Homo sapiens: one gene and its partner. The protein of the gene in region 2 purifies or fractionates together with the protein of the main gene of each other region. This does not show direct contact. Each region holds a gene or a part of one and is shown on either strand. Other genes may lie near its edges.

Region 1 (3,815 bases), on a different chromosome or scaffold from region 2:
GGCCAGGATGTACCCAGCCAGCTGCTGCTGCTGCTCGGCCGTCTTGAGGACCAGGCGCCCCTTGCTGAGTTGGATGATGTACTCCTTCACCAGGTGCAGGTGCAAGGCCTCCATGAGCTCCTGGGAGGGCAAGCAGCCAGGGGCGTGTGAGCTGTCTGCTGATGGGGAGCTCGCCACCTCCCTTGAAGCCTTGTAGCCAGGCCTCCAGAGAGAGGCAGATGCCAGAGCAAAAGACTGCACACGTGCTCGTGCGTCCACATGTGTGCGTTCACATGCTCATGCGTTCACATGCGTGTGTGTTCACATGTGCATGCGTTCACGTGTTCACATGTGTGTGTTTACATGCTCGTGCCTTCACGTGTGTTCATATGTGTGCATGTGTTCACATGCTCGTGCATTCACATGTGTGTGTTCACATGCTCGTGCGTTCACATGTTCGTGCCTTCACGTGTGTTCACATGTGCACGTGTTCACATGCTCGTGCATTCACGTGTGTTCACATGTGCGCGTGTGAGCACATGTGCGTGAGTGTACACAGACGTGCTAGTGTGCGTGTCCGGGCTGCCCCCAACTCCCCAAGACCCAGCCACCAGCCCAGAGCCTCCTCACCTCCCGGAAACAGCCCTGCAGCTCTGAGAACTCAGGCAGCCTCGTGTCTACAGTGGCGATGATGTTTTCCAGGGTCTCCACAGGGGCCGCCCAGCGGGTGTGCGTGAACCTCTTGAACAGTGGCTGAGACAGGAGAGGCAGGATGTCTAGTCACGCCCTGGAGAGGAAGGGCTGCCAGCCGCAGACACGCAGACACGCAGACACAGACACACACCGACACATGTGCCTGGTGGAGGGGCGGGGGGCACTCAAGGACTCCCAGGGAACCCGGGCCAACCTCAGGTCCCTGCTCACAGACAGGAAGTGGGAGCCGGCTCTGTGCACCCTTATCCAAGGTCACCCAGTGCGGCTCAGGAGCCAGGAGAGCCTGTCTGCCGGCCCGGAGGCCAAGTCCACTGCCACTTAAATAAATAAATTCCTTCATAAACAAGACCTTGTGCTTGGCTGGGCCAGGGAGATCAGTACCAGGGGATGTGGGGTCACCGCTCGGGCTTCCACCACACTCAGGCCACCCATGGCCGCTAGTCCCTGACACCGGGAAGAGAACCTCTCCCCTTCCTTTTGAGAGACCCCCCACTTTACACCCTGCTAAAGGAACTACTTGTTTTCACAGCATTTTCTGTGGATTTCTTGGCCCATAACAGATATAACCCCAGCTGCCGATGACCCTGAGCCTCAGTTGCTGGGAGTCAGGCGCGGGGATGGGGGTGGATAGGAGGGGCTGAGGGGATTGAAGGAAAGGTGTCTGCAGGCTTGGGACTGGGCTGTGTCTGAATCGGGGAGGGGCAGTGAAACTTTTCCAGGCCCTCCCAGCCCCAGGCGGCCCCTCCCAGCCCCAGGCGGCCCCTCCCAGCCCCAGGCGGCCCCTCCCAGCCCCAGGCGGCCCCTCTCAGGTGAAACCCCAGGACATGATCGGCGGAGTTCAGAGCCTGCTAGGGTCCCCAACCGGGCATCACCGCTGCACCAGAGCTGGCCCACGGTGCCGTCCACAGGCCTGGAGCGTGTCTTCCCCACATCTTTGCTTCTGCCACTCCTCCCTGGGGGCACCTCCCAGTCCCTCCCTGGGAACCCCCCAACACTGGGCTCCTGAGGGCAAGAGGCTCCCGCTACCTTCAGGTCCTCATGCAGGTTCTGGAGCAGGGTGTCAAAGCCGTGGCTCTTGAGCTCACCCAGGGGGCCCAGCAGGAGGCTCAGGGTGTCCTGGGGTACCTGCCAATTCTGCTCCATGGACATCCTGGAAGGTGGAGGCAGAGAGGTCACCCCAGCCCTGCTCAGCCTATAGCCCCATACCCAGGGAGCCAGACAGCCCCCTCTCTTCACTCTAGAACCCTCAATGGCTCCCCATTCTCTATGGGATCAAGTCCTCCCATCCATGTTCTCCATGCCCTCAGGACACTCCTCCACTACATCCCCTTGTAACTGGGGGCAAGTGAGCCTCCTCCAGTGGTTTGCCCATCTGCCTAATAGACAGATCACTATACCTACTTCACAGGGTTGCTTTAAGGATAAGATAATGGGTGAAACATCTGCCTGTGTGCTTGCCCCAGCCAGCACTTGGGAAATGTTTGCTGCTGCTGCTGCAGGCCGTGGAGTCCTCACACATGTTGCTGGTTTGAATTCCACTTCTTGGCCTAAGCAGCTCCTCCTCCCTCCACCTTCCAGCTCCCCTCTCCTGCCCGCTGAGTGACTCCCACTCCCGCAAGCCCCTCCCAACACTCTCACCGGAAGGACAGGCAGTTGTTGATGTTGGCAATAACATTGGCCCTGTAATTCGTCAGCTGCTTGCCTCTCTCCAGAAATTCATTAAAGGCGCGCTGGTAGCTGGCGAAACCAGAAGGGGCACATTCAGGACCAGCCCAAACACTGGGACCACAGCAGCAGCCTCCCTGCCCTCCCTGCCAGCTCCTGGGGTTCACTTTTCTGTTTGGCTGCCCATAGCCAAGGGAGGGGCCGCTAGCCCCTGGGCATCATGGAACTGGCTTCACAAGCTAAGGCTTGGGCTCCTGAAGAGGGTACCAGCCCATCTCTGCTGCTCCCAGGCCCTCTCTAGAGTTGGGAGACCAGGTAGGAGTGAGCGTGTGGTTGGCTGGAGAAGCCCTCAGAGGTCGAGAGGGAGAGAGCAGAGAGAATTCAGGTGGTGGAGACTAGGAGTGTTGTATGAAGGGGTGGCGGGGTCTCAGTCCCTCCTGGGGTATCCTCTTTGAAGCTAGAGGCTGCTCTGCTGAGAGCTTTGCTGATGGGGTGGGCGCAAGAGGCTCCCACGTTGAATCCTGGTGGAGGTCAGACCACCTGAGGCTCTCAGTGCCCTGGCTGAGTGGGAAACAACTCCTGGCTCAGAATGACAGGGACAGGGGTAGAGGGCGGGGATCCAGCTCAGCTCCCCACCTGAGGCACTAGGGAGGGGCCGTGGCTCTGAGAGCGGTGGCTACAGGGACCCCATCCTGGGCACACACCCACCTCCTCAGGAACGCAGGCAGCTCCACCAGCAGCACCCGCTTTATCTGTGAGCCCAAGTCCAGCGTGATGCTCTCGGCCTTGGCCTGGGCCTGGGAGGTGATCTGCAGGGTGGTGGTGGGTGAGCTGAGCAGGGGCTCGCCTGGACAAGGGGGCAGGGGACGGGGAGGAAACAGGCGGGAACAGAGGGGGTGCCCCGAGGTGGGCATGGGTATGCACACAGGACGGAATGTGCGTGGGGCTCCCCATGCACGTGCACGGGCGGTACGTGTGCCCTGGGGCAGATTGCAGTACCTGGATGATGTCGATGGCCAGCTCGCTGTGGCAGTGGCCGTCCAGCCTCTGGGGAGGCACATCCTCAGCCCAGCGCCGTGCCTCTAGCTCCAGAGCTCGGTCCATCAACTCCCTCACATTGGCCTGGAGGAGGAGGGGCAGGTCACTGGGGCACTATCCCTCACCTCGCTCACCTGGAAGACCCGTCAAGCTCCCTGCCCATGTCCTGTCTGTCTCCGAGCCTCTCCTCTGCTGCCTCCCTGCCCCTCCCTGGCCCAGGTGGAGACTCACCGCCTCACTGGACAGGAATGTGGCCTCCAGCAGTCGGATCTGCCTGGGGGGCAGGAGGCTCCCGAGCCCCATACCCTGCAGCTCACCCACCAGCTTGGGGCTGTTGATGATGTCACTGCAGGCAGGGGAGGCTGGCATGAGGACAACTATACCAAATCAGCACCACCACTCAAGCTAGAGCCCAGGCC
Region 2 (2,617 bases):
CCTCTTCCCACCAGCCTGACTTATCCAGGGACAGAGCAGTAGATGCCTGGCACTCCTCGATGCCCAGTGAAACCAGACTGTGCTTCCCCACCCCCACCACCATGCCCCATGCTCACTGGCTCATTTCTTGGGAGGGCTTAGAGCTGGATAATATAAGTTCCCTTGGACCCTGCTGTGCCAAATATACCAATTCTCTCTCCCAGCGTCCAACCTAGCAAGAAGGTATTAAGTCCTGCAAATCAGATGAGAATTCTGGTCTGGCCCCTGCCACTCAATAACTCTGTCACCCTGAACAAATCACTTCACTTTTTTTTTTTTTTTTTTTTTTTTTGAGACTTGAGTCTTACTCTCTCACCCAGGCTGGAGTGCAGTGGTGTGATCTCAGCTCACCACAACCTCCGCCTCCCAGGTTCAAGTGATTCTCCTGCCTCAGCCTCCCAAGTAGCTGGGACTACAAGCACCCACCACCATGCCCAGCTAATTTTTTTGTACTTTTAGTAGAGATGGGGTTTTACCATGTTGGCCAGGCTGGTCTTGAACTCCTGACCTCAGGTAATTCACTCTCCTCAGCCTCCCAAAGTGCTGGGATTACACGTGTGAGCCATCGTGCCCAAGGCCCACTTCACTTTTCAGCTTCAGTTTCCACCTCTGGAAAATGGGGATAATCTTTCTTTCACAAGATTATTAAGAGTGGCCAGGCGAGGTGGCTCACGACTGTAATCCCAGCACTTTGGGAGGCTGAGGTGGGCAGATCACCTGAGGGAGTTTGAGACCAGCCTGACCAACATGGAGAAACCCTGTCTCTACTAAAAATTAAAAAAATTAGCCGGGTGTGGCTGAGCGCGGTGGCTCACGCCTGTAATCCCAGCACTTTGGGAGGCTGAGGTGGGCTGATCACGAGGTCAGGAGATCGAGACCATCCTGGCTAACACGGTGAAACCCCGTCTCTACTAAAAATACAAAAAAAATTAACCGGGCATGGTGGTGGGTGCCTGTAGTCCCAGCTGCTCGGGAGGCTGAGGCAGGAGAATGGCATGAACCCGGGAGGCGGAGCTGGCAGTGAGCCAAGATTGCGCCACTGCATTCCAGCCTGGGCAACAGAGCGAGACTCCATCTCAAAAAAAAAAAAAAAAAAAAAAATTAGCCGGGTGTGGTGGCACATACCTGTAATCCCAGCTACTCGGGAGGCTGAGGCAGGAGAATCACTTGAACCCAGAAGGTGGAGGTTGCAGTGAGCTGAGATTGTGCTATTGCACTCCAGCCTGAGCAACAAGAGTGAAACTCCGTCTCAAAAAAAAAAAAAAAAATTATTAAGAGGATGCAGGCTGGGCATAGTGTAATCACAGCACTTTGGGAGGCCAAGGTGGGAGGATTGCTTGAGCCCAGGAGTTCAAGACCAGCCTTCGCAATATCGTGAGACTCATCTCTATATTTAAAAGAAAAAAGGAGGCCGGGCACGGTGGCTCACGCCTGTAATCCCAGCACTTTGGGAGGCTGAGGCGGGCAGATCACAAGGTCAGGAGTTCAAGACCAGCCTGGCCAACATGGTGAAACCCCATCTCTACTAAAAATATACAAAATTAGCTGGATATGGTGGAGCGTGCCCATAATCCCAGCTACTCAGGAGGCTGAGGCAGGAGAATTGCTTGAACCGGGACCTGGGAGGCGGAGGTTGCAGTGAGCCAAGATCCTGCCACTGCACTCCAGCCTGGACTACAGAGCAAGACTCTGTCTCAAAGAAAAAGAAAAAAGAGAGGATGCAGTGAAATAAGGTCAGAGCCTGTGCCAGAAGAGTTGTCAGCCAGTCACTCCCCTTCTTCCCACCCCTCATTGTCCCCTGCGTCACCTACCCCCTGCCTGTGGGGCCTAGACTTCGAGCCTGGAGGTTGCCTACAATGACAAAAGGAAAGGCTTGTAGTGGGCAGAGGGCATAGAGTCAAAGCACACAGACCCAGAGGGTGGCTTCCTCTGCCCGGCCTGTTACCGCTCCACCTCCCACATACATACCAGCAGCCCCTGGGCAGGGAGGGGCTGGGCACCAGCAGCTCCAGATAGGGAAGGTCCTTGAACTCATCCTCTCCGACAGCCACATAGTAATGGCCAGTTACCAGCTCCTTCCCTGCTGACAGTGGGAGCCCCTCTAGGGTGCAGAGTCTGGGAGAGAGAGGTGAGGAGGATAAGGGCTGGTAGACTCGATGCTTCTTCACATTCAGCAGACTGAAGGGGTGGGTGCAGCTATTCCAAGGTGCCCTCTGGCCTCTAGGCACCCAGGCTCTACCCTGCCTCTGAGGGCTGGGCAGAGGGCCCTCTCCCAGTGGCATAGGGGGAAGTCCCATGTGGGGGAACATGCTTTCCTTTTGCCTCTTCATCCTCAGCCACAGCTGAAGCCAGTGGCGAGGCTCTCTTTGGGGACTTTTGGGCCCTCGCAGTCCCCATACTCACTTGCACACAGCCCCACTCTGCAACTTGACCTTCTCAGTCAGGAGCTTCAACACAGTTTCCCAGTCCTGGCTGGCAGCCTGGGACAGCTTCAGACTAAATGGGGGACTTACCAGGTCCCCATTCCTGAACACACTGAGACAAAAAGCCTGGTAAGGGGGAGTGTCCCCAGGAGTCC

The links.
Region 1: the proteins of DCDC2B (region 2) and TNFAIP2 fractionate together in Homo sapiens (co-fractionation; one large-scale study listed by BioGRID). This does not show direct contact.

Annotation. Positions count from the first base shown.
Region 1 is NC_000014.9:103,129,667-103,133,481, reverse strand, and holds part of TNFAIP2 (tumor necrosis factor alpha-induced protein 2), read right to left. Parts: intron 3,743-3,815; coding exon 3,628-3,742; intron 3,481-3,627; coding exon 3,358-3,480; intron 3,168-3,357; coding exon 3,067-3,167; intron 2,431-3,066; coding exon 2,332-2,430; intron 1,844-2,331; coding exon 1,720-1,843; intron 733-1,719; coding exon 610-732; intron 121-609; coding exon 1-120. UniProt on the Homo sapiens protein: May play a role as a mediator of inflammation and angiogenesis.
Region 2 is NC_000001.11:32,212,027-32,214,643, reverse strand, and holds part of DCDC2B (doublecortin domain-containing protein 2B), read right to left. Parts: intron 2,575-2,617; coding exon 2,443-2,574; intron 2,155-2,442; coding exon 2,008-2,154; intron 1,891-2,007; coding exon 1,851-1,890; intron 168-1,850; exon of another isoform or gene 1-167.